3 linked regions of the Homo sapiens genome follow. The protein of the gene in region 3 purifies or fractionates together with the protein of the main gene of each other region. This does not show direct contact. Each region holds a gene or a part of one and is shown on either strand. Other genes may lie near its edges.

Region 1 (10,731 bases), on a different chromosome or scaffold from region 3:
TGAAAAGACATCAATGAATAGAACAGAATAGGAAATTTAGAAATACCCAAATATATGTAAGAATTTAGCACTTGATAATGGTGATGTTTTGTATTATTTAAAAAAGATGGATTGTTCATAATTCATTTTTGGAGAAAACTAGCTAGATTTTTATGTCACAAAAATAAGAGTATAGATTAAAAATTTTAAACATACAAAAGGAGAAACATACCAGAAAAAATATAAATGCCTATTTATATACGCAGATATATATATATATACATATATATACACATATATACATATATATACATATGTATATATACATATATATGTGTGTGTATATATATACATATATATGTGTGTGTGTGTGTGTGTGTATATATATATATATATATATATATATATATATATATATATATATCCTTTTTTTTTTGGTGGAGTCTCACTCTGTAGCCCAAGCTGGAGTGCAGTGGTGTGATCTCGGCTCACTGCAACCTCTGCCTCCTAGGTTCAAGCAATTCTCTGCTTCAGCCTACTGAGTAGCTGGGATTACAGGCGCCTGCCACCATGCCTGGCTAATTGTTTTGTATTTTTACTAGAGATGGGGTTTCACCATCTTGGCCAGGCAGGTCTTGAACTCCTGTCCTCGTGATCCACCCACCTTGGCCTCCCCAAGTGCTGGGGTTACAGGCGTGAGCCACCGTGCCTGGTGTATATATGCAGACATAATAAAATAAGCTCATTTTAAAATTGGGCAAAGTACTTTTTTTGCATATCTACCAGTGACCTATGCACATAGGAAAATACAGTGTTCCTGGTAGAAGAAGGAATTTAAGTTAGAAGAGGAATGAAATACTGCTTTCTATTTAAGTTAGAAGAGGAATGAAAGGCCGGGTGCAGTGGCTTACGCCTGTTATCCCAGCACTTTAGGAGGCTGAGGCGGTGGATCATGAAGTCAGGAGTTTGAGACCAGCCTGGCCAGTGTGGTGAAATCCCATCTCTACTAAAAATACAAAAAATTAGCTGGGCATGGTGGCACGCACCTGTAATCCCAGCTACTCAGGAGGCTGAAGCAAGAGAATTGCTTGAACCAGGGAGGTGGAGGTTGCAGTGAGCCGAGATCGCGCCACTACATTCCAGCCTGGGTGATAGAGTGAGACTCCATCTCAAAAAAAAAAGAAAAAAAAAAAAAAAGGAATGAAATACTGTTTTCCATCCACAAAGTTTGTGAGGATGAAGAACAGTGGTACTTATGTAGTTGTTTAAAGTTTAAGTTGCTGCAGCTTTTCAAACAGACACTTTAGTGGTAAGAACTACATTTTAAAAATGTGTATGCTTTTTACTTATCAATTCCATTATACTGAAATATCTTTACGAAATAGATGTGTTTTTCTTAGTATTGCTTAAAATAGCAGTGTATTTAGAAGAACCCATATAAAGATTTTATGAACAAATTTCAGTGCATCCATAGGATGGAATAATATGTAACTATTGAGGGTGTCAGTAGATACAGAGATATGTCGACGTGCAAAGATGTACTTTGCTATATCAAGTGAGAAAAAAATCAGTTTGTTACACATATACACGAACAGAATCTGCTCGTGTTAGCTGCAAATCTGTAGAAAATATAATCAAACTTGTTTCTGGGGATTTGTAAGTGAAGTTTTTCCCTTTCTCTTATCTGTGATTTCTGCAATGAACATCTGAAGTTGTAGTTAAGGTTCATTACTAATGCAATAATCCTTGGGAAGAGAAGGAATATGCTTCTTGCATAGATGCAAATAATTCCTCACATTCTATTATTTATTTTTATTTCTGTGGTTGGCTATTTTCTGTGAACTTTTACCCTCTTCAGAAGAAGAGGGGTCGTGTTTACCTGTTCCTGTAGATTTTATTATATATACATTTTATTCCATAATTATCTTTTCATTATATATAGATTAACATGTAAAAAGTATGAATTAATCATTTTAGTTGAGTTATATATTTATGAAAATTAAAATAGCAAATATAAATGATTATTGCTATTGCAAATGTATTGCGCTACTCTATAGGAGTTTTCTTTAAAAATATTGAACTCCCAAGCTGTGTTCATCCATTTTTCCTATCCATTTAGTCATCAGACATAAGCCAGACACCTATTATGTGGCAGGCATATTCTACTATCTCTCAGGATCCTTCCGTCTTTGAAAACTACATGTTTTCCTGCTGGGCTTGAGCAAGCTGAGAGATTTAAAATTGGGGCATTAGGACTTAATCTCAATTGAAGCTTTTCCTCCCTCCTTTCAAACAAAAGCATTTCTGGAGGTAGAAAATAGTAATAGATAACCTTTAACTGCCCTTTTGAAAATTTATGTCTTGGGGAAAAGACTGTTTTAGTTGTTTTAAGAACTAAAATGTGGTACATAAACAGCATGGAATAATATGCAGCCATAAAAGAAGGAACGAGAGCATGTCCTTTGCAGGGACATGGATGGTGTTGAAAGCCATTATCCTTAGCAAACTAACATAGGAAGAGAAAACCAAATACAGCACGTTCTCAATTACAGGTGGGAGCTAAATGATGAGAACACACAGATACCTAGAGGGAAGGAACACACACTGGGGCCTATCAGAGGGTGGAGGGTGGGAAGAGGGAAAGAAGCAGGAAATAGAATGAACAGGTACTGGGCTTAACACCTGGGTAATGAAATAATCTGTACAACCAACACCCTTGGTGCACATTTACCTATGTAACAAACCTGCACATCCAGCACATGTATCCCTGAATGTAAAAGTTGAAAAAAGCTCCACAAATAGTTTCATAAATCCATTTTAAAACAAGAAAATTTATAACAGTCTTAAATCCTAATATGAATGATTGGAAATATCTGATGTACATACATTGTATAAATCTAAGTGTTGACAAAAATGAGCCCATGCTATTCATTTGAATTCCAAGTTTTCTTTGACTTAAAGTTTATTGAAAACCAAAGTAAGAATTGGTTTATTTTAGAAATTTGTTTTTGTTTTCACCTCTGCTCTCTTATTCCATAGTTCTTTTAGGAACTAAAATTTATCTAAATGCTGGTCATCTGACTGGAACCGCCCCAGACCTGTTGTAACATATTCTACTTAATGTAAGACACCAGGGATTGTATGATGCCCCATTATTTTATGCCTCAATAAGAGAATTATTTAAATGCCGCAAATTATAGTAAATCATGAATTGTAAGTGGTATTTCAGTGGAGACAACATGGAGACAATGATCATCTCAGAATCACTAAAATACAATGTTAGCTGTAATATTTAAAACACACCTGAAAGTGCAGGTATAATTGTATCATCTCAATTCAAATGTTGTCTTTAGTGGTATTAGTAAAAATTAAAATATCTAACAATTATTGAGCTGTTATTTGTGTTAGGAACTATTCTATATCTTTTGTGCAGAGTCTCATTTAAGCATTACAGTGGTTTCCCGTAAGAAAGCTACTATTTTCATTCCTATTTTATTGATGAGGAAACTGAGACCCCAAAAGGCTAAGCAACAGCCAGGAAGTGACAGAGCTTCAAGTAGGATTCCAGCTCAAGTTGAATGTCATCCAAGGGCTATGCTCTTTGTATTCATATAGGATGCTCTTTCATTAATACAGCGAGTAAAGAGAGATAATAAATAGTGTGCTTTTTTCATGGGAAAGTTAAATGTTTGTTTTGAAGGCAGAGTAATAGCAGGCTATTCAGTGTTTGCAATTACATGAATCATTGCTATGGCTGTAGCTAGTGCACTACAATTTCCTAAAAAGTCTTGTCACTCTCATAGGACTGCTCTACATCTGGCCTCTGCCAATGGGAATTCAGGAGTAGTAAAACTCCTGCTGGACAGACGATGTCAACTTAATGTCCTTGACAACAAAAAGAGGACAGCTCTGACAAAGGTATGCAGTAGCCAACTATATCAGCATGAGGTGGGTTTGATTTCAATACATAGCATAAAAATGAGTTTTCTCCTTTAAATATAACTTAGGTGGTGAAAGCTGTGGAATGTTATTTTGAATTCCTAGGATTTGTAATTTGTTTTTGGTCTAATACTGACAGGCCGTACAATGCCAGGAAGATGAATGTGCGTTAATGTTGCTGGAACATGGCACTGATCCAAACATTCCAGATGAGTATGGAAATACCACTCTACACTACGCTATCTACAATGAAGATAAATTAATGGCCAAAGCACTGCTCTTATACGGTGCTGATATCGAATCAAAAAACAAGGTATAGATCTACCAATTTTATCTTCAAATACTGAAATGCATTCATTTTAACATTGACCTGTGTAAGGGCCAGTCTTCCATATTTGGAAGCTCAAGCATAACCTGAATGAAAATATTTTGAAATGACCTAATTATCTAAGACTTCATTTTAAATATTGTTACTTTCAAAGAAGCATTAGAGGGTACAGTTTTTTTTTTAATGCGCTTGTGGTAAATAATTTTTTTGAAAGCACTGAATTTGTAGAAGGTAATACTTACTATTTTTCAATTTTTCCCTCCTAGGATTTTTTTCCCCTAATGAATGTAAAATGGCAAAATTTGCCCTGAAATAGGTTTTACATGAAAACTCCAAGAAAACTTAAATATGTTTCAATGAATAGAGATCCTGCCCCTTTGGCAAGTTCCTAAGAAACAGTAATAGATACGAAGGTGATGCGCCTGTCAGTGGCAAGGCTTAAGATATTTCTGATTGCTCATGAGGCAGAAGTGGAAAGCGGAAAAGAGAGCAATCAGAAATATCAAGGCCAATTTGGAAATTAGGTAATAGAGGGAAAAGACCATGAAGAGGTTGTGTGTGTGTGTGTGTTGTCGTTGTTGATTGATTTGTTCCCTTTGTATGTTGAGACAAGGTTCTCTTCAATTTTAGAGAATGACAGTTTTCAGTTTGGGAGAGGGAGTTAGTGGGTTGTAAACTGAATAGAGATCAATTTTAGGAGGCCTCTGAGGAACCAGATTGGCAGTGAATAGGTGGTAATGTAAGGGGAAACCCTTGAGCAGAGGGAATATCAAGTAATTAACTGACTTAGTATCCTATTCTGGTAGAAATGGCCAATTAGAGTCTCAGCTCTGCTTTCAAATCTAGAGTGTCTGGATGGGAAGGTGGAAGATAAATAAGTAACAAGATCAAGTTGGATTTTGAGTTGACTAGACCCTGTTCTTCTCTTACCGGGGAAAATCATGTGGTGTTTTCAGCAAATGGGTCTCTCTCCTACTCCTTACTCTTTTTGGCCAAATCTTCAAATGAGAAAGGGAACTGGTCATATGGGTGAGAAATGAGACTGAAGTAATTGTCTGTTGCACTAGCTTTCAGCTAGAATTGTGCATCCCAGTAACCTGAGGAAAATGTTTAAATAATCAACAAGTCTAGGCTTTTTCTGAATATTTTGATACAGTAAGTCTAATAAAGCCTGGATATGTATATTTGAAAATGTTTCCTTGAAGCCAGGCATGGTGGTGCATGGCTGTAGTCCCAGCTGCTAGGGAGGCTGAGGTGGGAGGATTGCTTGAGCTCAGGAGTTCGAGTCTAGCCTGGTCAACATAATGAGACCCTGTCTCTAACAACAACAACAACAACAACGACGACGACAACAACAACAATTTTCTCAAAATCTGGATACACTCCTGCTTAAGAACCACTCAATACATAAATGTAATATGTAAATTCTTATGTCTCAGAAACTTAAGGTATCTCTAGAAGAGTTGGGGTTGGATATGTGCTGATTTCTTTAAATCTTTCCAATAACATTAATCTGACTTTTTTTTTTTTTTTTTTTTTTTTTGAGATGGGGTCTCACTCTGTTTCCCAGGCTGGAATGCAGTGGTGTGATCACAGCTCACTGCAGCCTCGACCTCTCCAAGCTCAGATGGTCCTCCAACCTCAGTTTTTTTTATTTTATTTTATTTTTTTTATTTTTTTTTATTTTTCAGTAGAGATGAGGTTTTTGCCATGTTTCTCAGGCTGGTCTTGAACTCCTGGGCTCAAGCGATTCACCCACCTCAGCCTCCCCAAATGCTAGGATTACAGGTGTGAGCCACCATTCCTGACCTAGTCTGACTTTTATCTCTGTGGTTGAGACCTTAAAATGAATATTATTGGTAGTATGTATCAGCTTACAGAATAATACCTTTTCCTTTCTACCATCAGTTATTCACTGCCATTCAGAAGGTCTTTAGAAATTTGCTGTGAGTATGGCCCTCTCAGGATTTTGTGTCTCTTTGTTCAGTCATTCAAGTACTTAGGTCAGTAAGTCGTTAAGAGCAGAGTTTTCTCAATTAGAATTGTAGCAAATTCTAAACCATTTTTTGTCAATTGACGCTGTATTATGGACTATCCAGTGTGTCTCTTAAGTATGTAGAGCTTTGGCATAATCAGCATGGCAGTTTTAAACACTAAAAACCATGGAGTTATTAAGAATACAGATAGGAATTCTGTTAATTTAGTTTCAGTAGTCCTATGAACTGATGGTTTAGTTAACAATCTGGGAAAATTAAATACAAATAGATTTTAAATAAATAAATGTTGGAAAATTTTTTCAAATGGGCAGTATGAGTTTTAACAGCAATTTTTGTTGCATGTTGGAGGTTGAACTTTTGGTAAAACATGAAACTAAAGAAATATTTTACATGCAGATTCTTGCTTTATACACAATTTGTCTTAGGGTTGAGGATATAGAGACAAAAGATACAGCCCCTGCCCTCAAGAAGCTTTTTGTTTAGATGGGAAAAATATTATCATCCAATAACACCATGCCAAATGCTGGTTTAGAAGCAAAGAGCCTTGGAAGCAGTAAATGTTTAAAGTGAGTTTTTGAGATGATTAGAGGTACTGTGGTGAGGCAGAGAAGGGGTGTTTCCAAGGGAAGGAGCAGCGTGTGGGAAAGCACAGAAGAGTGAGAAGGAAGCGACTACATTTTATTTACTTCTATGCGTGTAAGTCCATAAGATCTTATATAAAGTTTCCACTTCGGTTGAGGAATATGTACTTTTTTGAATTACATAGGTTTTTGCTTTATATTGTTTTACAGCATGGCCTCACACCACTGCTACTTGGTGTACATGAGCAAAAACAGCAAGTGGTGAAATTTTTAATCAAGAAAAAAGCGAATTTAAATGCGCTGGATAGATATGGAAGGTATAGTTCTTTCTTTTAATCTGTGTTCTAGATGGATAGCAGTCACTCAAGTCATAAATATTAAATTAATAAGATTAATGTATACTTACTGGGATGTAGTGATCAGTATCAACACAAATCAGTTAGGTAGAAAAACAATTACTTGGACTGGGCAACATAAAGAACAGTTTTAGTAGGATTCGTCTTCTCATTATATTGACTGATGTTATTTGTTATGTGACGTTTTTGGTTACATGATCTTATGTTAGCTAAAGGCATTTCATATTAATTTTATGAAGTTTGAACTTTAACTTTTAGTTTACTTTATGACTCAGTATTGAACTTCTTAACCCTTTCTAATAGTTTTTAACCTCTGTGTCTTACATGCTTTTCCACTAAATATACTGTATTAAACATAAATAGGGGTTGAAAATCCTTTTGTCTTTTCAATGACTCTGCTTTAAGTTGCTTTCTTTGAAGAATATTAATGTTAGCTTATCGCTACATGACAATTAATTGCTGTTCCCACATACTGTGGGTTCAACAGCTTTTTTCCTTTTTTATTTCCAGTGTATTTTGGTGTTTTTAGTTTTAATTGGTATGGAGAGAGGGAGTGAAGATAGTTTTAAGTGGATACACTTTTCCTTTAATGAAGGCAAGATGTAGGTGGGTGATAAAGAGAAAAGAGCTAGGCTTTGGATTCACACAAGACTGGGTTAATTCCTAACTTTCTTACTTGCTAGGTGTGTGACCTTGGGGATGTTATTTACCACCAAATGTGTTGTCATGTATGAAAAGTAGGAGAATATATCCTTAAAAGTTGGCTGTGCATAAGTAAGAAAGATAAATGTAGGATTTAATTCAGTGCCTAGCACATGGTTATTGGCACCATTAACTGAAACTCCTATGACTACTATTCTTACCATTGTTAATATTACTGCTTTGAGCATGCAGAGAGCTCTTATTTCTCTTACCCCCTAGCTGATTTTCTATTACAGCATATCTGTCTAGGGAAGCTGTGACAAACTCTTCACTTAAATCTTTGTCCACTTCAGATAAGTGGCCCTAACATTGTTTCTTGCCCATCAAAGGATGTTAAATTAGTAGCTTCTGCTATGCAATACCCCACTGAGATAAGAGGGTTTTTTTTGGTCCCTTCCTTTTAACTTTTGTGGTATTTTACAAAGATGAACACTTGAGCACTCAAGATGCTTATGTCTTTTAGTGCATGTAAATGTTTGATTCTGCACAGACAGGCAAGATGTTACATTGGTAAAGTATATCAAATTAGCTTTAAAAATAACTTTATTACAGTTCCTATCTCTGTCATTTTAGAACTGCTCTCATACTTGCTGTATGTTGTGGATCAGCAAGTATAGTCAGCCTTCTACTTGAGCAAAATATTGATGTATCTTCTCAAGATCTATCTGGACAGACGGCCAGAGAGTATGCTGTTTCTAGTCATCATCATGTGTAAGTGTTCACATTAAAAGGCTAGTTAATGCTGAATTGAGGTTTAAAATAATTATAACAGTTGCATCTGACATATCAGGTGAGATGTCATAGTTTGGTTCAGGTAGTTTTCGCGTGGCAGTGAGTTAGTCCCCTGCATCAGCCAGAAATCAGACAAAAAGCAAGACAAGTTAGAAGTACCAATGGGTGCGGGATTCTTTATCTCAGGACTTTTAAGATCTTTATCCTTAGAGATCCCAGCATTGTTCATTTGATCCAAGTGTAACACCTATGCATGGGATAAAAAATAGTGTCACATCTTTAATTTTTCTGATTAGTTATTTGGGTCTTGAAATGTCCAGTTTAGCGGAAAGTCTTGTACTGTCTTCTGGGCACTATGTCCTACATACTCCTTGAATTTTTCAAGAACCGAAGGGGTTTACTAAATCCAAGGAAGACAGTCCCTTTTATCAAGTCAGAAGGAGGAGGAAAAAAGACATTGCAATCATTCTGTTGTTTCCGTTGATTCTGTTGCTGCTTTGTGGCCACTCAAACTGGTCCTGCTGCCTTAAGATGAATCAGTAGATTCAGATCCCTCAAGTCTTCATGGCGATTCATACAGTGACTTTGATGTTTTTTAATTCCCATACCTATGCTTATATGCTCAGCCATTGTTCCCAGAGCACCAGCCCCCTGCTCTGGCCGCTGGGCATCTTGACTTTATCCGCACACAAAGTGACCAAATTGACCCTTCCCCACATATTCAGAACCTAATGTGGAACCCACATCTTAGCCAGGAATTAGCTGAGACCTTCATGGTAAGAGATCCTTTGAGGCTGTTGTTGGTCTTTTCTCTAGCAGATATTAGGTGGGCTTGTTCTAAAGGGTGAGAGGGGTTCAAATAATGTGGCAGAAAGAGATCAGTGTTTGTTTCTTCTTCTTTGCTACCAGATCTGTACTGTGAGGCACCTTTATATCCTGTATAGAACCTTGGGCAGTAGAAAGTCCCATATGAACCTTCCCCTGAGCAGTGGCTCCCAGCTGTGGTTGGCCCCTTGAGTGATCTGATTTACATGATAATGAAAATCGTGGAAGCTACTTCCATCTCTAGCTCAAGATTTTAAAATATTTTCAAACTCTAGCTCACAGGAAGCCATTGAAGAGAATTCTCAGAATCTCAAGTAGGTTAGTTGGACTTCACAGAGCCAAGCCTTGTCCATGACGCATCACTAATCATGTGTAAAAGTAGGGCTTTGTGCTTGCTTCGGCGGCACATATCCTAAAATTGGAACAATACGGGGAAAGTTAGCGTGGCTTCTGCATAAGGAGGCAGCACAGATCTTTGAAGCATTCCATATTTTGTGCAGTCACTGGAAGGTCATTTGACTATTTGCTGACTAGCTCTGAGGAAATAGTGTGAATCAAAGCAAAATGGGTGCCACCCAAATATTGAAATTGTGATTTCTGCTGCAAAAATAGTCATGTAAGATGGTCTATGAGATGACTTAGACCTGAATAACATGTTCGGTGCAAAATATATTGTTAGTATGTATGTCGAAAATTACAGAATGTCAGCTTGCTACTTCTCCGTGGAAACTAAAATAAATAAAAGTAGACTTTTGGTCTCCCATGTCAGCTGGAATTGAACATCAATATAAAGCATTATCCTAACAGACATCTACTGGCTGAGAGTTTGAGTCTGTAGAGAAGGATCGTTGGTCCAAGTCAGGTCTTAACATCCATTGGTTTTTCTGCCCTTGGTGTGATTGATCAACTCCGTAATAGTGGACAATCACATTATCTACTTTAATGAGATATTTATGAATAAATTTAGTTATAAACTATGACATAGTTGAGATGCCCTGAATTATAAGCCATAAAGAGTAGGACAACTAAGAAGCAAAATTAGGACTTAATAACATTTTCTGAAAACTACAACATTTGCATATTAGAACCTATGAACAAAATACGCATTGGGTTTTATTTGGGATTCCAAGATAATTTTAGTCATAAAGTTTAGGAACAGATTATTCCATTGCTTTACTATTTCTCTGAGCATTTAAAAAATGTTATCTCGTTAAATCTTTATAACAACCTAGTGAAATAAGGCAGCAAAGTCCTCACTTTGTTGAAGAAGACATTGAGCCTAAGAGAAGCAA
Region 2 (10,731 bases), on a different chromosome or scaffold from region 3:
AAGGTGATTTTTTTAACCCAAACATCTTCTCATAGTTAATCTGGTTGAACTAATATGAAGAAATTTTTGTGTGAATGAATGAACACAACTTCATAATTCGTTCCTGTCCACTTTAGGATGGAAGATTCTCTCCACTGTGGAAAGGCCACATTTAAACTTTGCTAAAGGAAAGATTTTTCTCGTTTGTCTTCGTGTAATTTCTTCTAAATGGTAGTTTAATCTTTTTAGGAGAGCATCTTTATTAAATGAGTGCCATGTATAAAGGGAGTAACACAACGTCTGGTTTCTAGTACGCGCTTAGTAAATTATGGTTCCATATGACGTGTCTAGTGTTGTTATTTTAGATTTCCATTATTTTAAACATACGCTTAGATGTCTTTGAACTACAGCCATACTTTCTTCTTAAATTTATGCATTTAAAGGCATCTAGAAGGATGAAGGCCAGATCGGTCTTGATCACTTTCACAGCCTCTAGCACCTGAAAGAAAAGTCTAGCATATAATAAACAGTAAGTATTGTACTTTAAAGGGAGGAATAAATGAATGAGTTTATTACAGAAAGCCATTACCCAGTCCTATACTATGTTGACAGGCGAAAACATTTGGAAATAATGTCTTCTTTATGATGTGCAGTAAATTTCCTTTTTATGTTGTGCAGTATCTAGCGGAGGCTTTGTTTTGAATGATGGATCAAAAAAGAAAAAAAAGAAGATTTACATTTCTTAGAGCCAGGCTGCATACAGTTATTATAGACTATTGTAAGGAAATAAGGTGGAAAAAATAAGTGTAACCAGGTATTTGGCACTAAGGCTCAGTACAATTTTGCCAGAGTACAGTGAAATGATATTGTGTGTTCTTTCATTTCAAAGAAATCTTAAGTTTCAGTCATCAGGAATTTTTGAGAGAATGTTTGGAAGACTCTTTTGCAGATTCAGGATAGTTTGAGAGAGTATAGGGCAGGTTTCCAATCTAGGCTGTGGAGTGCCCTCTCATCCCAGATCCCAGTTCATATGATTATGCTAGTTTAAACCCCGAAATATTAATTCACCTTCTGTCTCTCAAATTCAATAAATAATACTTCTAGCATTGACCCAGCCAGCAGTTCTCAACATTGGTTTCAGTTAAACCAGAAATCTAGTACTGGACATTGCCATTAATATGTTTAAATCTCTCCAAGGTGATTCTGAGATGCAGGTAGGCCTGAGAATTGCTGGCTGGGCAAATCTTGGAAGTGTTACCTGCCGTTCAGGGACATTTTTGGTAGAAATTCATTATTAGAGGCTGAGAGAAGAGAACAGGTTTTAATTAAATAGAGTGTATATATATACACACTATATACATCTATATGTCTGTATTTGCTCATCTATATCTGTATGTATTTGAACTGAGTTATATTGATTGTTAGGTTATTAGTAAACATTTTAAAACTACATTTTAAGAATCATTGACTCTAGTATATATCAAAAGCTGAAGTACTCAAATACCATATTTTTTATGTCCTGAAAAACATCCCACCCAGCTGGTTTAGAAAGGTTTGAAGTTCATGGGTCTTCTATGATAGGTTAGTGTCTTTAAATCACAGAGATATGACATATGTATCCATGCTTTCTTCCCTTTGTCACCAGGCACATGAAGGGGTAATACTTGTCCTGTAGAATTTCAGTAATTTTAGTGTCTGGGAACTTAGGTGTCTATGGTGCTTAATGGCAACTTAATGTGTCTTTTTGCTCAGTTTATCTTAGTGTTAGGTTATTCATGTTTTTGAAATTGATATTGGACTCATGCTTTCCAGGTATTATTTCTTATAAAATCATTCAGAGATTGAGAAAAAACAGCAACACATAACAACAATAGTAATCTTCAGAACAATTCTTTAGGAAAATAAAAAAATGATAGTAATAATTGCAGCCTATGTATTACTTACTCTGTAGCAGCTGTCACCAGCTGCCGCTCTAAGTACTTGGATTCCATTCATTTACTTAGAACTCACAGTAACCCTATGGGTAATATTACCCTTACTTTAAGACAAAGAAATGAGTCACTGAGAGGAGAAATGACTTGTCCAAAGTCACACAGCCAATACATGGCAAATGGAAACTTTCCATTGTTGCTTGACTTAGCCATCAAACGTTAGCTAGTCTGGGGTTGCCTTCTGGGATAGGGTGTCTTGTCATTGCAGTCATATCCATACTTTCTCAAGGATAAACTTCTTCTGTCTGCAGCAGTTATTCAGTCCAGACTTCCAGGATTAGATTATTTCTGTGGGAGGAGAAAGGGAGGGAGGGACTAAAGAGAATTTAAAATGTGAGGAGACCAAATAAATCAGGATACTTGTAACAGCTGTACCATAGTGTCCTTGTAGGGTTTTACCTTAAAATGGTTGATGGCAACTTCATTCTTTTTTTTTTTTTTTTTTGAGATGGAGTTTTGCTCTGTCACCCAGGCTGGAGTGCAGTGGCATAATCTTGGTTCACTGCAACCTCCACCTCCCGGGTTCAAGCAGTTCTCCTGCCTCAGCGTCCCAAGTAGCTGGGATTACAGGCATGCGCCACCACGCCTGGCTAATTTTGTATTTTTAGTAGAGATGGGGTTTCTCCATATTTGTTATACTGGTCTCGAACTCCTGACCTCAAGTGATCTGCCCGCCTCAGTCTCCCAAAGTGCTGGGATTACAGGGGTGAGCCACTGCTCCTGGCCCACTCTTTTCATTTTTATAGTTTACCTGTCATCCTTGACAACTCACTTTCTCCCTCGTCCTGTATCATATCTGGTAGGAAAATGTGGCTCTCTGCCCTCAGAATATATCAGACTTTGACCACTCTCAAGACCTCTGCTGCTGCTCTTCTGGAGATTTAAGCAGCTGCCATCTCCCCCAGCCCACCTGGTCTCCCTGCTTCCACCCTTGCCTGCTCCAGTCTGTTCTCGACACAACAGCCATGGCTAAGATCCTTTAAAAAACTTGAACTTATTCCTTCACTCAAAAACGGCAGTGACTCGTTATTGCACAAGTAAAAGCCTTACAGTGGTCGCTGGGGCCCCTTGGGATCTGCCTGCCATCAGCTCACTCAGTCGCTTGCTCATTCCAGCCACATTGGCCTCCTTCCTTGCCCTTCCTGGAACATACCAGACACAAACTTCCACCCCGTTCTCTCCCTCTGCCTGAAGTGTCCTCCATGTGCTCTCTTGGCTGAGTCCCTTTATCACCTGCAGCCTTGGTTCAAGCCTGACCTTTTCAGGGAGGCCTTCCCAATCACCTTTAAACATCCTTTCTGCCGCCCACTGGCAATCCCAATGCATATTCCCTGCACTCCTGTTTCTTTATTCCTTAACACTTTATGATATACTATATAAGTATAAACATAAATACTAGCTACTAGCTACTAGCATGTAAGTTCCAATAGAACATTTATTGTTTGGTTCACTGATGTAACCAAGTGCCTAGAGTAGCACCTGATTCCTTGAAGATACTATAAATATTTGTTGAATGAATTTGTTGAGTGAAACCAACCATTGAAGGATGTGAATGAAAACATCATCGCGTATGTTTATTGGGTGAGGGGAAACAGGAGGCAAGGAGAATGAAGAGGACTTGTAATAATGAAAGTAGCGTGGATGTGAAACTTTTTGGCTTTGTAGTTTAACCTGAGAGGTAGCAGATAGGGTGAAGTACTGAAAATGAAACTTAAAGGTTTTAAAGCTTAAAAAGAAAAAAAGCATACCCAGGCTGAAAGGAAACCTGGCTAATGGGAATCTGTTTAATAATGTGGTATGTTTAGTCTTTTTTCCTTGTTTCTTTCAACGAATGACTTTAGCTGTGGCCTTACATCCTTAAGGATCAAATTGAGACTCAAATGCTCAATTAACCAAAAAATACTAGATGAACATCTGCAATTATGAACATAGTCACTTATGTTGATTTTCTTGTCTGAAACATGAAGTGTCTAATGGGATATAGGTACATGGTGTTTTGGCTGTCTACAGCCAGAGAAGCTAGAAGCCTCAGGGACTCATCCCAAGCAGCGGAGGGATAACTGGCAAAACTGCTTGCCGTTAGAAGAGTGGGGACACAGGGCAATTTGAAATCTAAGTGCCTGTAGGATGAGCTTGCATATTGCTCTTGGCTTCCTTGAGTCTCTACAATCTATTTAACATCACCTCTGCAGCACTCTTTCTTGAATCTTGGTCCCACATTAACATTACCAGCCCTGGTGGGCAGAACATACCGTGGACTTTCTTTCCAGGCTAAGACTTATCAGCCCTGCTGTCTGCAAGGTATGTGGAGACACCCCGACCAAGCATGTGACTTCATATTAGTTAGCAGTGTGGAGAAGTGCAGTTTAAAGATTTGTCAAGAGAGCCATTCTCCATAGCACTGACCATGGGTCCATGACCTGTCTCTGCTTACTTTTCATGTTTCTCTTTCACTTAGAATCAGGGAGTCGTTTGCTTCCACACACCCATTTTACAGGTGGGAAGACTGAATCTCAGAGAGGTGTAGTTTCTTGCCCAGGTCATGCAGATCATGGATGATGGTAGTAGAATTTACTTTGTTAATTTTCGGCCAACAACCGTGCTAATTACTTGACCTGTATTGTTTTTCTTAGTCTTCTTATCATTCTCCCCATTTTCTAGGTGAAGAAATTGAGCCTTAAAGGTTAAGGCATTTGCGGAAGGTTCCTCAGTTTGTTAGTGGCAGCTGGGGTTCGGTCTGCTGTCAGCTTGCCTCCATGCCTCAACTGCCCTGTGACAGCTAATTAGAGAATGATCCGTGTCTAGAATCTGAACCTCCTGATGGCCTGGCCCAGCCCACTTTGTTTCAAGAGATTCATAGTTATTGCCTATATGCTTTTGTCTAGCAATATTTTGTGTAAGGACTTTTACTTTCCTGCCTGCCTTTTTTTTTTTTTTTTTTTTAAGACAGGGTTTTACTCTCTCGCCCTGGCTGGAGTGCAGTGGCGCGATCTTGGCTCACTGCAACCTCTGCCTCCCAGGCTCAAGTAATTCTCCTGCCTCAGCCTCCCGAGTAGCTGAGATTACAGGTGCACGCCACTACTGCCCAGCTAATTTTTGTATTTTTAGTAGAGATGGGGTTTCACCATGTTGGCCAGGCTGGTCCATATGATCCACCCACCTTGGCCTCCCAAAATGCTGGGATTACAGGCATGAGCCACTGCGCCCAGTCTCCTGCCTGCTTTTTGAGAGTAATGAAAATTAAATAATTCCATGGAGTGGTAGATTTTCTCACCTTCTCACCCTCCTCTACAAAGCTGATGGTCTTTTTTTTTTTTTTTTTTTTTTTTGAAACGGAGTTTCGCTCTTATTGCCCAGGCTGGAGTGCAGTGATGCCATCTCGGCTCACTGCAACCTCCGCCTCCTGGGTTGAAGCAATTCCCCTGCCTCAGCCTCCTAAGTAACTGGGACTACAGGCACGTGCCACCACGTCCGGCTAATTTTTGTACTTTTAGTAGAGACGGGGTTTTGCCATGTTGGCCAGGCCGATCTCAAACTCCTGACCTCAGGTGATCTGCCTGCCTCTGCCTCCCAAAATGCTGGGATTATAGGTGTGAGCCACAGTCTCCGGCCTGATGGTCTTGCTTTTACATTTCTGGCTAGATGAAACTAATGCAAGGATTAAATTTATTTCTATCCAGCAAGGGGCAGAACCAAAAAATACCAAGAAGCAGGATATGTGTGTGGCTTTGAAATTCTGTTTTAATCACATAGGGTCAGAGATTTAGCTCCAAGTGTGTCACATTGGATTGACTTTGAGGAAACAGTGCTATTTTTCACAAGAGGGCTATTGACAGTATCATACTTGTCACACTTCAAAGTGTGAATCCTTTCATGATTCAACATTGGGCTGTGAGGGTAGGTCCCCAGCAATGACAGTTGATGTAAGTCCCTCATCCTTTCAGTATTATTTCCAGTTTATAGCTGGAAGAAGGGTGAGAGTTCACTTTCCCTGCAGCATTTCTCATCCTCTTCAGATGTTGAGTAGTTTGTTGCTTGGAGCCTTGGTCAGGAGACCATTTCTTCTCTGATTCTCAGCATTATTCTAGCCTGTCTTTCCTGAAGAAAGGAGAGGCTCAAGGAAGGTAAAGTCAGAGAAGGCTCTTCTCAGGGGATTTATAGGGTGTGCTCCCAGCTCTGTGAAGTATGGTGGAGGGCAAAGAGAGGAAGCCTTGTAATGGGAAGACCCGCATTCCAGATGAGGTTCTACTTTTACTGAGGGGCCTCCGTCCTGCTGAGCCTCACCTTCCTCTTCTGCTTAAAAAAAGTGCTTAAAAATACTGCCTTGCCTTGGGCTGGGCGCCGTGGCTCATGCCTGTAATCCCAGCACTTTGGGAGGCTGAGGCAGGCGGATCATGAGGTCAGGAGATCAAGACCATCCTGGCTAACATGGTGAAAACTGGTCTTTACTAGAAATACAAAAAAAATTTTTTTTTCAGTTGGTATACTTTATTTCTTTTTTACTTTTTAAATTATACTTTAAGTTTTAGGGTACATGTGCACAATGTGCAGGTTTATTACATATGTATACATGTGCCATGTTGGTGTGCTGCACCCATTAACTCGTCATTTAACATTAGGTATATCTCCTAATGCTATCCCTCCCCACTCCCCCCACCCGACAACAGGCCCCGGTGTGTGATGTTCCCCTTCCTGTGTCCATGTGTTCTCATTGTTCAATTCCCACCTATGAGTGAGAACATGCCGTGTTTGGTTTTTTGTCCGTGCGATAGTTTGCTGAGAATGATGGTTTCCAGCTTCATCCATGTCCCTACAAAGGACATGAACTCATCATTTTTTATGGCTGCATAGTATTCCCTGGTGTATACGTGCCACATCTTCTTAATGCAGTCTATCATTGTTGGACATTTGGGTTGGTTCCAAGTCTTTGCTATTGTGAATAGTGCCGCAATAAACATGCATGTGCATGTGTCTTTATAGCAGCATGATTTATAATCCTTTGGGTATATACCCAGTAATGGGATGGCTGGGCGAAATGGTATTTCTAGTTCTAGATCCCTGAGGAATCACCACACTGACTTCCACAATGGTTGAACTAGTTTACGTCCTACCAACAGTGTAAAAATGTTCCTATTTCTCCACATCCTCTCCAGCACCTGTTGTTTCCTGACTTTTTAATGATTGCCATTCTAACTGGTGTGAGATGGTATCTCATTATGGTTTTGATTTGCATTTTAAAAAATTAGCTGGGTGTGGTGGCGGGTGCCTGTGGTCCCAGCTACTCAGGAGGCTGAGGCAGGAGAATGGCGTGAACCCAGGAGGCGGAGCTTGCAGTGAACCGAGGTAGCGCCACTGCACTCTAGCCTGGGTGACAGTGAGACTCCATCTCAAAAAAAAAAAAAAAAACTGACTCGCCTTACACATTGAGGTAGTACTATGAGGATCCAAATGAGGCTAAAATGCTTAAAAAGCCACAAAGTACTAGATGAACTTATGTCATTATGAATGTGGTACTCATATTGATTTTCTTGTATTATATGTGAAGTGTGCTCCAGTATCTCCACCTAATTATGTTTGGACTGTCCATAGTTGGAGAAGCTGGAAGCCTAAAGAGCTTATCCTAACAAAGACATCAAAGCAGGCTTCAAGGCAGTCCCAGAGCATAACTGTAATTTTAGAGCTGGGTAGGGTAAGGTTATATAGAGCTGTCTGACCTTTGAGTGGGATGCTTGCTGGCTGTAGAATTTGGAATAGAAATACTATTTCTCAGATTCATTACTCTTCTGAGTTGCATCTTTCTGAAGTCAGTGTGATGCCACACAGGAGCAGTGGGATGAATATTTGAAGAAGCTTTCCCTGACTCCTGGGGTAATGGAACCCACCCAGGCTGTCTGCTAACTGTGTCCCCGGAACCACATTCCTAGGAATGTCAGCATGCACCCTTAGGTGTAAGCTGGAGCCAGGGCTTGCTTGCTTGCTTATTTATTTATTCAAAGAATAGGATTTTGAGGCATGCATAAATATGCTTTATTATATTAAAATACTGCTTTTTAATAAAGGGTAGTTGGTTACCTAAAATAATAAGATCAAGCGTTCCTCAGCAGGTTATTAGGGGCTGTTGTTCTCATTTCTTTTAGGAAAGGAATCTAACTGGCTAGACCCACAATTGCAGGGAGCTCAGGAGATACCCCACCCACCTTTTCTTTCTTGCTGTTGGCTCTGTGTGTTGCTGGTAGCTGTTGCTAGGCTCTCTGTCTCCCTTTACTTTTTCTAGGGGCTTCCTTTGCTATTTGCCAGCTTGGAAAGAAGGGTGTGCTAAAGCTAAAATTGAGCATGTCAGCCTGGCAAGTCACATTGGTGGATCCCACACATCAGCAAGATTTTGCCTGTAAAGTCTCTTGATGACTCTGGCAGAAGAGGTCATTTCAGGGGTTGGCCAACTCCAGACTGCCACTTTGTTGCCTTGCCAGGAAGGTTGCTTTTCAAATAGATAAGTGGAAAACCTGTAAATCTGTTTTTTTCACCTTTGTCAGAAGATGGACATTCTATACATTAGGTTTTACTGTTTTTTTGAGATGGGTTTTGTTCTGTTGCCCAGGCTGGAGTGCAGTGGCGTTAGCTCACTGCAAACCTCCGCCTCCTGGGCTTAAGTGATCCTCCCACCTCAGCCTCCTGAGTAGCTGGGACTATAGTCGTGTGCCACCATGCCCAGCTAATTTTTGTATTTTTTGTAGAGACAGGGTTACGCCTTGTTGCCCGGGCTGGTCTCGAACTCCTGGGCTCAAGCCATCTGCCCGCCTCGGCCTTCCAAAGTGCTGGGATTATAGGTGTGAGCCACCATGGGTTGCCCCATTAGTTTGTAAAGAAACTTTTTTGTTATTGTTTTGTTTTGTTTTGTTTTTTAGTATGGTTTAAAAACTGATCTGAGAGGCAGTTTCATAAAAGAAATTGTAAAATGTTTTGGGCCATGGTAACAACTCTGGGCTGAGTCTAGTCTCCCATGGTTATACTACTTGCATTAAAAAGTACTTCACTGCAGACACATTATCCCTTATTGGGGATGTGTAGTGGGGCTTCAGACACATTGTCCCGTACTGGGGATGTATAGTGGGGCTTCACTGGGTATGGTGTATTTGAGTGGCTTGCTCAGCAGAGATGTGTGAGCAGCTTAGACATGTCAGCTGGCTCCTGGTACTGAGAGAAATACAGCTGGGCACAGTAAGGAGAATTGTTAGCAACTACAATCACATCCGTGCCAGTTTGCTTTGTGAGCTTTGCAGAAATCCCAGTTGGGTGGTGAAATGCAAGTCACTTCTATTTTGGATGCCTCTGATTATAGACCTTCTGACTGTTGAAGGCTGACTAGGAAATACTCTGCATGGGAGTTCTATGTAATATAGCTATATGTTTCAAAACTGTGAGTGCAGTGCTTACAACATTTTATAAGCAAGTTCTTTATTTTGGGTGGATGCTTCTGTTCTTGGTGGTCAATAAGGAAAAAGAGCAGTTATTAAGGATATTTTGTTTATATTTGGTAAGCTCCTTGTCTCACACTGCAGATTTAACATGAATCAGAGGAATTAGTGTATGGGTGGGTAGGATGAGTTCTGTTTTTTGCTTCTCAAGAAAAGATTTCACTCCAAATTTAGAATTCTGTCTATTAATGATTATATGATCTTAGGATTTTAATTGACTTTCAGGATTTTATTGGATACATTTATTCCAGTTAGTGCAATGATAATAATCCTTTAAATTATTTCTGGTTCTTACAGTAGGTTTGTAAAATTTGTGTAGTTGTTTAAAAGTCCAGGTTTTACAGCTCCTCGTCTGTGTATCCTGTCAAAGTCCCGGAGGAGAAAGAAGTCATGGTGCTGTGTTTAATCCAGTTTCAAAAATTTCAGACGCACATATTTATCAAGGATTCCTTTCATTTACAGTGAGTGTTAACTTTTGTCAGTTTAGGGATAATCTTATTTTTCCACAGCCTTTTTTCCCTCAAGCTGTGAACCGTTATTGCACCATGTAGTGCTTGTTGCTCTTTTGCTTGCAAAGTGATGATAAGCAGTTTATATAGCATTAGAGATTGTGTTCTATATTCTGAAAGCCAAAGCTGATGTTATTGAAGAGTTACAAGTTGTTTATTCACTCTAATGTTAGCAAATATTCGACTCCCACTTTTCTGTAAGATAAGTCTGATGTCTGATTTGTCATTTCTCCTATTTGGTGGTAGGGAGTCTGGAGGAAGCCTAGCAACCTTGCTGTTCAGAAAGGATGATGCCAGGCATAACCACGGAGGGGTCCATCTGAGGGCTGCTTTGCGAACCACTGGCTTCTGAGGAAGATTGTTGGTTCCGTTAGGGCACATATCTTAAGCACCGTGTGTGCTCTGCAGGCACACTTGGCTGTTGGTTGAGTTCTCTTCTGAAGCAGGAGGATACGACTTCGTCACTCACAGTACGAAGCTGCCTGCAGTCTCTGGATGTTGGAAGTGTAAGATGTGAGCAGAGAATATGAGCAGGAGCCCCCGTCCAGGGTGGGATGAGTCAGGGAGGACCCCATTGCAAGATAGCAGGGCTCTGAAAGCCCGGCAGGGCCCTGAGAGGTCAGCAGCAGGCAGCCAGAAGTAGGTTGGGTGCTTTTATTCTTAGCGATGTTTGGGTGCCTGTGTGCTGTGCCCTGGAGAATGGTTCGGGCTGGACAGCTAGCATGGCAGTGATTCTCAGTCAGGGATGGTCTGAATCTGGACACAATTTCCTTCTTT
Region 3 (10,731 bases):
AGCTCATAATTTTAACAGCTAGCCATTGTTTGCATGGAAAGGAAATCAGAAGTCAACTCAATGAAAAGGTAGCACAGCTGTATGCAGATTTGGATGGAGGTTTCAGCCATGCAGCCTGGCTCTTACCAGGTTGGCTGCCTTTGCCTAGTTTCAGGTATGGATAAAGAATATATTACACTAGGTTATTTAACTTTGTATAATTATTGTAGTGTTGGTATGCTTTGCCTTAACAAAGATAAAAATTAAACAAGTAAAACATACAAAATGGGTAAGATTATGAATCCCCTTTCTTCTATAAGAATTCAAGACAAATTTTCTTTATATAATGAGCTCATTTAAAGTAAGTTTCAGTTTATTAAAAAGGTGATTTGTTGTCTGTCTAGTCTAATATTTTATTTATGTTTTTGTTTTTGAGATGGAGTCTTGCTCTGTTGCCCCAGCTGTAGTGCAGTGGTGTGATCTCGGCTCACTGCAGTCTCTGCCTCCTGTGTTCAAGCAATTCTCCTGCCTCATCCTCCTGAGAGCTGGGACTACAGGCACGTGCCACCATGCCCAACTAATTTTTCTATTTTTAGTAGAGACAGGGTTTCATCATGTTGGCCAGGCTGGTTTCAAACTCCTGACCTCAGGTGATCCACCTGCCTCAGCCTCCCAAAGTGTTAGGATTACAGGCGTGAGCCACTGAGCCCAGCCTAGTTTAAAAGCCTGCTTACCTCACGTATTCCTTATCCTCAGGAAAGTCTCTGAACTATACCTAAAAGTGATACAGCTCTTCTCTAGCACTTGTTTGAAATCTTTGGTGGCTTTTTATTGTATTGTGAAGTTTCTTTGTTTTAAATATTTGTGCCTTTATTTAATTTTCTGTTTCTTAAGGACAGGGACTGCCTCTGATATAAAGAAATATTGCTCTTAGGACTTGATCTATAGCTTAGTGCTTAGTGTTTTGCATATTAGTAGGCTTTCTGTACTTTTGTTGATTTATTGGTGTTTAGGTGACAGATGGGGAGGAGATAGATTGCTAGTCCCTTTTCTTCTATTTCTGCCCCCTCTATCTAGTTACAGATTGGAAGAGGGGTGGGAGTAAAAGGAAGAGCCAGGAGAGATTCCCTAAAGTTCTCTGGAACTCATCATACCTTATATTTGCAAGGAGCTTTGCAGTTTCAAAATGTTTTCATATATCTTATATTAGAACACCCAGCACAGCCCTGGACTCATAGTGGGTTCTCCATAAATGTGCATTTCTTTTTTTTTTTTTTTTTTTTGGTGATGGAGTCTTGCTCTCTCGCCCAGGCTGGAGTGCAGTGGCATGAGCTCGGCTCACTGCAAGCTCTGCTTCCCAGGTTCACGCCATTCTCCTGCCTCAGCCTCCCGAGTAGCTGGGACTACAGGCACCCGCCACCAAGCCTGGCTAATTGTTTTGTACTTTTAGTAGAGATGGGGTTTCACCGTGTTAGCCAGGATGGTCTTGATCTCCCGACCTTGTGATCCGCCCGCCTCGGCCTCCCATAGTGCTGGGATTACAGGCGTGAGCCACTGCACCTGGCCCATAAATGTACATTTCTACCTGCCTGTTTCTACCTGCTCTGTCTCTTGGATGAAGTCAGAGCTTGCTATGTTAGGCCCTTCACATTCTGGCCCAGTCTTTCTTTCTTCTACTCATACCAACTAATTTAACCAGATTATTCAATTCACTTTCTTAAACAGGCCTATGTTTTCCTGGTTCGACTGTATTCATACAGTTAAGCCCCAACATCTTCTCTTCTGTACACATGGTTTCAGTTGATCCTCAATAACAGATTAACAGTCTTGTAAATGAAACAGAGTAGGAGTTTTTTTTAGAAGGCTTGATTTAAGAGGGGGCTTGGGAGTCAGACTGCCTAGTTTTAAATTCCAGCTCCAATGTTTGCTTTCTGTGTGATCTTATGCAGCTAGCTATAACTTGAGGTTAATAGTATGTACCTCACAGGAAGATAAAAGTGAGTAATTCATGTAAAACACTTAACATGGTACCTGCTACATAGTGAACATACTATTTAAAGGTAAAGTTTAGGAGTTGAAGCTTGTTTTCTGAATCTGCTAGTATTTTCACCCCCTACAAAAAACTATTGTATTAGAAAGTGAAAAGTAGAACCAGATTCCATGGAAGAACCAGAGTGACTCTTCTGCTTTAAGACTTGATTTGGTATTAAAATTGGAATTTTATGTTAATTTAAAAGAGTATCCTACTTTCTGTTGAACTGGAAAATACTTCTAAAGGAATTTCTTGCTTGTTTTAGGCCTTTAGTTTGAACACAGGCAATGTGTTAAGAATCTGGGATATATATGTTAAATAAAGCACAGTTCTTGCCCTTAGGGACTATGGACATTTTTAACAATGTAAGATTTTCATGACTTCCAGTATGTTCCTGGTTCTGATTTTTTTGTCAATTATTTTAGAGTCATTAAAGTTGGTTAAATAAGATGCTTTATGCTCGGTCCTGGTTCTCAAAATGAATTTGATCCTAGAAGGTTATTTCTTTATTTAAGAAAATCATCTTTATCTTTTAATTACAGACGCAGGGACAGAGCTCATCGGGAAATCAAGGATATTTTCTATAAGGCAATCCAGAAACGCAGACAGTCTCAAGAAAAAATTGATGACATTCTCCAAACTTTACTAGATGCTACATACAAGTAAGAGCTATTCAGATAACATATTAAGCTGAAGCAGGAAATTACACATTAAAACACAGTTAAATAGTATTTCCAGTTAAAAAACAGTGATGCTGGCAAAATAAGTTGGTAGCTGTGATCTTTGGACTCTTTAAATTGTTGAGACATAAACTATTGGCATCCTGTGTCTTACTGTAATCCCAGTGACTGGGTATGGTAAAAGTTTGCTAATGAACTGTAATGGAGTCTTTTGTAATCAAAATCGTTTTGTGCTGGTCTGTCTCTTCCCTAAGAGAAAAAAAACTCTTGACTTGTGATAGTCAAATATAAGAGACCACTATACCTGAAAAATGTATTCATTATGACACTTTATTTAAAGGTTGAGGCATGAAATGTATCTGCCAAAATGTTAAATTTGTGTCTTTGGTTCATTCCTTAGGGATGGGCGTCCTTTGACTGATGATGAAGTAGCAGGGATGCTTATTGGATTACTCTTGGCAGGGCAGCATACATCCTCAACTACTAGTGCTTGGATGGGCTTCTTTTTGGCCAGAGACAAAACACTTCAAAAAAAATGTTATTTAGAACAGAAAACAGTCTGTGGAGAGAATCTGCCTCCTTTAACTTATGACCAGGTTTGTTGGATTTTTCAGTTTCATTGCTGCCTTATGACTTTGAGGATCTGTGGCTAATTTTTAAAAGGGACAATTTGAGATTTTCTATATACTATAGCTTAAATTGATCAGCTTCTCTATTTTTAGCAAATTCCCTATAACCTTACCTAAAATATCTTAATGTTATTGCTTCTTGCCATTAAGCTTTATCAGATATGTTTTGGGTTGATGGCTTAGAGATCCTTGGGGATGTTTCTTTGGTACTTACTTCCTCTGCTTCAAAGTCTGGCTTCTGTACATAGAGGATATTATGTGCATGTTGTGTGTCTTATGAAGTGTAGAAGCCTCTGAATTACTTAGAATTCTGTATGTCCAGAGTGGCCTGGGCATGAGCAGAGACTTCTAAAAGTAGTAGTAGTAGTAGTAATGAGGACAAGACATTTACAAATACTACATGCAACTTGCTGGGTGGAAAGGAAGAGAGGACAACTCACTGCACAACCTGACATTCCATCTTGGAAGCAAACCTTGGTGATGTCATCTTCCTGTTATCTTTTGTGCTTTTGGTCCTATATTAATATGGCACATTACACTGATTTTCAGATGTTAATTGTATTCCTGGGATAAATCCTACTTTGTCATGGTGCATAGTTCTTTCTATATGTTACTACATATAAACTTGCTGGTGTTTTGTTGAGGATTTTTGCATCTATATTCATAAAGGATATTGATCTCTAGTTTCACTGTGATGTCTTTGACTGGTTTTGATATCAGGATCATACTCATCTCATAGAATGTATTTGGAAGTATTCTTTTTTTCTTCTAATTTTTGGAAGAGTTTGTGGATGATTGGTGTTAATCCTTTTTTACATATTTGCAAAAATTCAGCAGTGAAATCATCTAGATCTGTGCTTTTCTTTCTGAGAAGACTTTACTTACTAATTCAATTTATTTGTTACAGGTTTATTCAGATATTCCATTTCTTCTTATGTCAGTTTCAGTAGTTTATATCTCTCTAGGAATTTGTCCATTTCATCTAGGTTACCTAATTTGTTGGCATACAATTGTTCATAGTATTCTCATAATCCTTTTTATTTCTGTAAGCTCAGTAGTGATGTCTCAACACTCATTCTTGTTTTTAGTAACTTAAAATAACAGCTTAACTGATATATTTACATAGCATAAATCCATCCATTTAAAATGTACACTTTGTGGTTTTTAGCATATTAAGAGTTGGGAAACCATCATCATAATTTAATTTTAGAACATTTACATCACTCCCAAAAGAGAGCTGGTACCCATTAGCAGTCATGCTTCATTCTCCCTGACTGCTGCCCCTGGCAACCATTAATCTCCTTTTGCCTCTGTGAGTTTGCCTATTCTGGATATTTCATGTAAATGGGATCATACAATTTGTAGTCTTTTGTGACTACCTTGTTTCACTTAGCATGTTATCAGGGTTCTTCCATGTTGTAGCATGTATCAGTACTTCAGTCTTTGTTATTACCAATAATATTCCATTATATGGATAGACCACATTTTGTTTATTTGTTCATCAGTTGATGGACATTTGAGTTGTTTCCACCTTTTAAACTATTATGAATAATGCCGCTCTAAACGTTTGTGTACTGATTTTATGTGGACATGTGTTTTCAATTTTGGGGGGTCATACCTAGGAGTAGAATTGCTGGGTTATAAGGTAACTTTGAAGAACTGCCAGACTGTTTTAAAAAGTGGCTGCACCACTTTCAAATCTCACTAAACAGTATATGTTGGTCCTGACTTCACCCCCTCACCAAACTTGTTACTTGATTTTTTTATTATAATAGGTGTGAAGTGATACTTTTTTTTTTTTTTTTGAGACAGAGTCTTGGTGTGATGCCCAGGCTCTAGTGCAATGGCGCGACCTTGGCTTACTGCAACCTCGGCTTCCCAGGTTCAAGCTATTCTCCTTCCTCAGCCTCCCAAGTAGCTGGGTACACACCACCACGCCTGGCTAATTTTTGTATTTTTGGTAGAGACAAGGTTGTACCATATTGGCCAGGCTGGTCTTGAACTCCTGACCTCAAGTCATCTGCCCGCCTTGGCCTCCCAAAGTGCTGGGATTACAGGTGTGAGCCACCATGCCCAGTTGGTATTTTGTTTTGATTTTGCATTTCCCTGGTGACTAGTGATGTTGAGTGTCTTATGATGTGTTCTTTGGCTTTGGTATACTTCTTTGGAGAAATGTCTGCTCACATCCTGTTCCCATATTTAAAATGAGTTGTCTTTTTATTATTGAGTTGTAAGAGTTCATCTATTTTTTTTTAATGTGCTTTTGGTGTCAGAGAAACTAATGCCTAATCAAAGTGTATGAAGATTTATTTCTGTGTATTCTTCTTAGTGTTTTGTAGTTTCATATCTTACATTTAGGTCTTTGATCCATTATGAATTAATTTATGTATATGATGTGAGGTCATCATTCTTTTGCATGTGTTTATCCAGTTGTCCCACACTGTTTGTTGAAAAGACTATTTTTTCCACGTTGAATTGTCTTTGTAAAAAAATCTATTATAGCCAGGCGCAGTGGCACGTGCCTGTATTCTCAGCTACTGAGAAGCTGAGATGGGAAGGTCGCTTGAGCTCAGGACTTGGGGTCCAGCCTGGGCAACATAGCGAAACCCTGTCTCTGAAAAAATAAATACATTTTAAAAAGCCTCTTGACCATAAATTTAAGGCTTTATTTCTGGACTCAGTTCTATTCCATTGATATGTTTAGTCTGATGCCATTACGTAGTTTTGTAATAAGTTTTGAATTCGGGAGTGTGAGTCCTCTGACTTTGTCCTTTTCAAGGCTGTTTATCTACTCCTAGTCCCTTTAGTTTCCATATGAATTTTGGGGTCAGTGTGTCAGTTTCTGCAAAGAAGCTAGCTGAGATTTTTGACAATGATTGCATTGTATCGCCATATTAATTTGGGAGCACAATTTTAGTCTTTAAATCTGTGAACATGAGATGTCTTTCTCTTATTTTAGTTCTTTAATTTCTTTCAACAATGTTTTATAGTTTTTGGTGCACAATGTTTAAACTTCTCTTGTTAAATGTATTCTTAAGTATTTTATTATTGTTATTTTTTTGATGTTATTCTTTCTTCTGCCAGTCCAAATCTGCTGTTGATCCCCTCGGGTGAATTTTTCATTTCAGTTCTCATACTTCTCAGTTCTTGAATTTCTATTTGGTTCTCTAAAAAAATAATATATTGATATTCTCCATTTTACTAGAGATATCTAGGCATATTTTGCTATAGTTCTTTGAACCTGTTTATAATAGCTGATTTAAATTCATTATCTAGTAAGTCCAATGTCTGGGCTTCTTCATGGATAGTTTCTATTAAACTGCTTGCTTTTTCTATGTACTGGCCATACTTTCCTGTTTTGGTGTGTTTTTTGTAATTTTTTTGTTGAAAACTGTACATTTAAAATAATGTGGCAACTGTGGAAATCAGATGCCCTCCTCCCTGGGTTTATTGTTGCTGGCTCTTTGTTGTTGTTGTTGTTGCTGCTGCTGTTTGTTTACTGCGTTTCCTGGATTAATTATGTCATTCCTTGTTCAGTGAGGTCACTGAAATCTCTGCTTGCTTACTTTAGTGGGCATCTAATATTTGGACAGAGATTTACTGAAGTGCTTTGAACAGCCAGTCTCCTAGCTTTTGCTGAAAGGCTCTGTATGTGTGTGTTAGGGGATGTTATTAACACTCCAACAGGCAGTTACAAGTCTGCCTTCACTACCTGTGTGTACAGGTCAGCCAGAGGTAAAAGATTACAGCCTCTTAGATCTTACCTGGGCATATGCATGGTCTTATACATATGTGTGGCCTTCAAGATTCTCTTATGTTGGAACTTTTCAAAGTCTCCTGTGGACATCTTACTCCCCAGTTTTCCCTTTTAAACTTCTTGTTCTGTCTCTTAGCACCAACTGATATCACCATCTCAGGCGCCTTCAGTGTTAAACAATTTTTGCTAAATATTTTTGGAAAATTTGCTCTGGCTCCTCTAATAGTTGTTAGGCTTCTGGCTTTCACAGCTGCTATAGTTGTCATGCTGTTGGTTTCCGGGGCTACCATGGATTTGGGGAGAGGAGGATGAAAGAAATACAACTTACACTACCACAAAGCTTACTCTTCTTACCAAGATTCAGATTTCTTTTTCTTGAATTAACTCTCCTTAGATTGTTGCAAGCCTTTGGTTAATCTTCCAGAATTTTGAAAAAGTTGACATTAAGATTGTTGCTACTGTTTTCATTTTTTGGAGGAGTGAATTTTTGTAGGTTCTTACTTCATTCTTCAGGGCAATCGCTTCTGTTACCTTGCCCTCCTTTTTCACCATGGACAGTGGTAGAGCATGATAACCCCAGCCACCCTGAACCAGTTACCTCTGTACTTTTAGCTGGAATGCAAGCTGTCTTGTACTAACTAAGAAGTTAAACTAATTTTTTGTACTGTTGAAGTATGTTATTTATAACAATCAGGAAATGCTTTCTCATTTTAGCTCAAGGATCTAAATTTACTTGATCGCTGTATAAAAGAAACATTAAGACTTAGACCTCCTATAATGATCATGATGAGAATGGCCAGAACTCCTCAGGTGAGTATCTTGGCTACATCTTCCCCTCTATACCCCCAGTTTTTATCAAAAAGAAGAAATAGGTGGGTGTGGTGGTTCACACCTGTAATCTCAACACTTTGGGAGGCTGAGGTGGGAGGATCACTTGAGGCCAGAATTTGAGACCAGCCTGGGCAACATAGTGAGACTGACCTCATCTCTACAAAATTTTTTCTAAAAATTAGCTGGCCATAATGGCACATGCCTGTGGTCCCAGCTGCTTGGGAGGCTGATGTGGGTAGATTGCTTGAGCCTGGGAGGTTGAAACTGCAGTAATCCATGATCACGCCACTGCATTGCTGCCTGGGCAACAGAGCAAGACCCTGTCTCAAAAAAAATAAAAATAAAAAAGAAAGAAAAAGAAAAGAGGAAGTAGAGTAGCATAAAAGAGATTTTTTTAAATTAAAAAAGTAGAATAATCACTTCTACCTAATCTTCAGTTTTATATACTCTAAAAACATATTTTTACCTAATTGTAGATAGTATACGTGCTAATCTGTTTTTTTTTTTTTTGAGACGGCATTTCACTCTTGTTGCCCAGGCTGGAGTGCAGTGGTGCGATCTCAGCTCACTGCAACCTCCGCCTCCCGGGTTCAAGCAATTCTTCTGCCTCAGCCTCCCAAGTAGCTGGGATTACAGGGGCATGCCACCATGCCTGGCTAATTTTTTGTATTTTAGTAGAGATGGGGTTTATCCATGTTGGTCAGGCTGATCTCGAACTCCCGACCTCAGGTGATCCACCCGCCTTGGCCTCCCAAAGTGCTGGGATTACAGGTGTAATCCCGCGCCCGGCCTACATGCTAATCTTTAATGCTAATCATGTTCTGCATTTTTCTTTAACAATTGGGGTTTTAAAAATCAAAGTACATATTTTTCTTGGTTTTAAAAATAACATTTTGTTGTAAAAAATTGTTAATATGAAGTGTACAAATTGATAGTGAAAGCCTCTCTGAAATTCCAACCCTACCTCCAAGGCATTATGGGTTTGATTTGTGTACTGTGTACTTCCAACCCAACGCTGGCTCACTGGAAATCATCTTGAGTTAAAATAATTTTTAGTTTGCCTATTATCTAGCCAGTTTTTAAATATATGTACAGATGGTTCTTGATTTATGTGATTCAACTTATAATTTTTTGACTTTATGATGGATTTATCAGGATGTAAACCTATCATAAGTCAAGGAGCATCTGAGTATCCCATGTATATTCATGCTTTATTACACAATGATCTGATTATTTGTCAGCACATTTTTAAATTCTCTAATGAAATGTGTGGCTTTTGTTTATAGACTGTGGCAGGGTATACCATTCCTCCAGGACATCAGGTGTGTGTTTCTCCCACTGTCAATCAAAGACTTAAAGACTCATGGGTAGAACGCCTGGACTTTAATCCTGATCGCTACTTACAGGATAACCCAGCATCAGGGGAAAAGTTTGCCTATGTGCCATTTGGAGCTGGTAAGATGATTATATTTTAGATTGGAAATGTTTGTTCTGATAACATATTTGTCTCTGTCAAAATATTCCGAATTGTGTTTACAAATTATCTCTCCCTTTCCTCATAGGGACATTTTTGCAAACTTTTTTAGGAGAAGAATCTTTATAAGTTGGAGAAAAATATTTCCTTTGTACCAAATGGAATTGTTCCATAAATCCTTATATAATGCTTCACTACTTCCTAACCTGTCTGGTTTTATTAGGTCTAATTTTTATAGAACATCCTTGTTTTCCCTTACAATGGTATTTAAAGCTCTTTGTGGATTCTCTTTTAAAGAACCATTGGAGTCAGCACACCATTCAGGGAATAACAGATTACTAGCATTTCACAAAAAAGCAAAGGCAGTCTTTTAAAATTAAAGCTCTTCTCGATCGTTAGTCAACATTTTTGCTCTCTGAATATCCGTATGAGAAAATGGTCTTTAAATTTGGGCAGGTTGTGTGTAGGCTTGCAAATTTCATTTCCAGTAAGATCCTAAAATAATTTAGCTATACCCTTGTTTCTCCAGTAATTTCTCTGTCCATTGGTTCTCTGTACTGATTAAACTATATTCTATGCTTTAGTCTTTCCAAAGGGATCATTTAAATGACAGATGACTTGTCATTGGTCACACTTTTTCCACATATAAAGGAAAATATAAAGTCCTTTGGGAACTTCAGATCTTAACTTTATGTAATAAATTTAATACTGTGGTGTATAACACAATATATAAAAGAATCATAGTTTTTTTTTTGAGAGAGTCTTGCTCTGTCACCCAGTCTGGAGTGCAGTGGCACAATCTCTCAGCTCACTGCAACCTCCACCTCTGGGTTCAAGTAATTCTCGTGCCTTAGCCTCCTGAGTAGCTGGGATTACAGGTGTGTACCACCACGCTCAGCTAATTTTTGAGCTTTTAGTAGAGACTGGGTTTTGCCATGTTGGCCAGGCTGGTCTCGAATTCCAGGCTTGAAGCAATCTGCCCACCTTGGCCTCCCACAGTGCTGGGATTACAGGCGTGAGCCATGCCACCTGGCCAAAGAATCAGATTGTTAACAGATGGGAAGAGCATTAGTTCTGTAGCCCAAATTCTGCCCCAAAGAGGAATCGTTTCTAAACTAGTAATTATCTGGTTTCCACTTGAACTTTACTAGAAATGGGTTGTGGGTTGTTCAGTTACCTTTTATGATGGCTCATTCTATGTTTGGACAGCTGTCATTTTTAGAGCCTTATGTTAAAGCTGAAATCTGTTTCTTTTTAACATCTCATTTATAGTTGGTCCTAACCATAGTCTCTGAACTTATATTGTATGAGGTATTTGAGTACAGATATAATGTCTCCTCCATCTTTTT

What was found.
Region 1: the proteins of CYP51A1 (region 3) and POTEI purify together in Homo sapiens (affinity purification with mass spectrometry; 3 studies listed by BioGRID and IntAct, with this or other methods). This does not show direct contact.
Region 2: the proteins of CYP51A1 (region 3) and CCNY purify together in Homo sapiens (affinity purification with mass spectrometry; 2 studies listed by BioGRID and IntAct, with this or other methods). This does not show direct contact.

Annotation. Positions count from the first base shown.
Region 1 is NC_000002.12:130,496,946-130,507,676, reverse strand, and holds part of POTEI (POTE ankyrin domain family member I), read left to right. Parts: intron 1-3,782; coding exon 3,783-3,897; coding exon of another isoform or gene 3,898-3,927; intron 3,928-4,057; coding exon 4,058-4,231; intron 4,232-7,034; coding exon 7,035-7,141; intron 7,142-8,455; coding exon 8,456-8,593; intron 8,594-10,731.
Region 2 is NC_000010.11:35,338,108-35,348,838, forward strand, and holds part of CCNY (cyclin-Y), read left to right. Parts: intron 1-10,731. UniProt on the Homo sapiens protein: Positive regulatory subunit of the cyclin-dependent kinases CDK14/PFTK1 and CDK16.
Region 3 is NC_000007.14:92,115,676-92,126,406, reverse strand, and holds part of CYP51A1 (lanosterol 14-alpha demethylase), read left to right. Parts: coding exon 1-154; intron 155-2,553; coding exon 2,554-2,673; intron 2,674-3,091; coding exon 3,092-3,287; intron 3,288-7,791; coding exon 7,792-7,887; intron 7,888-9,194; coding exon 9,195-9,363; intron 9,364-10,731. UniProt on the Homo sapiens protein: Sterol 14alpha-demethylase that plays a critical role in the cholesterol biosynthesis pathway, being cholesterol the major sterol component in mammalian membranes as well as a precursor for bile acid and steroid hormone synthesis.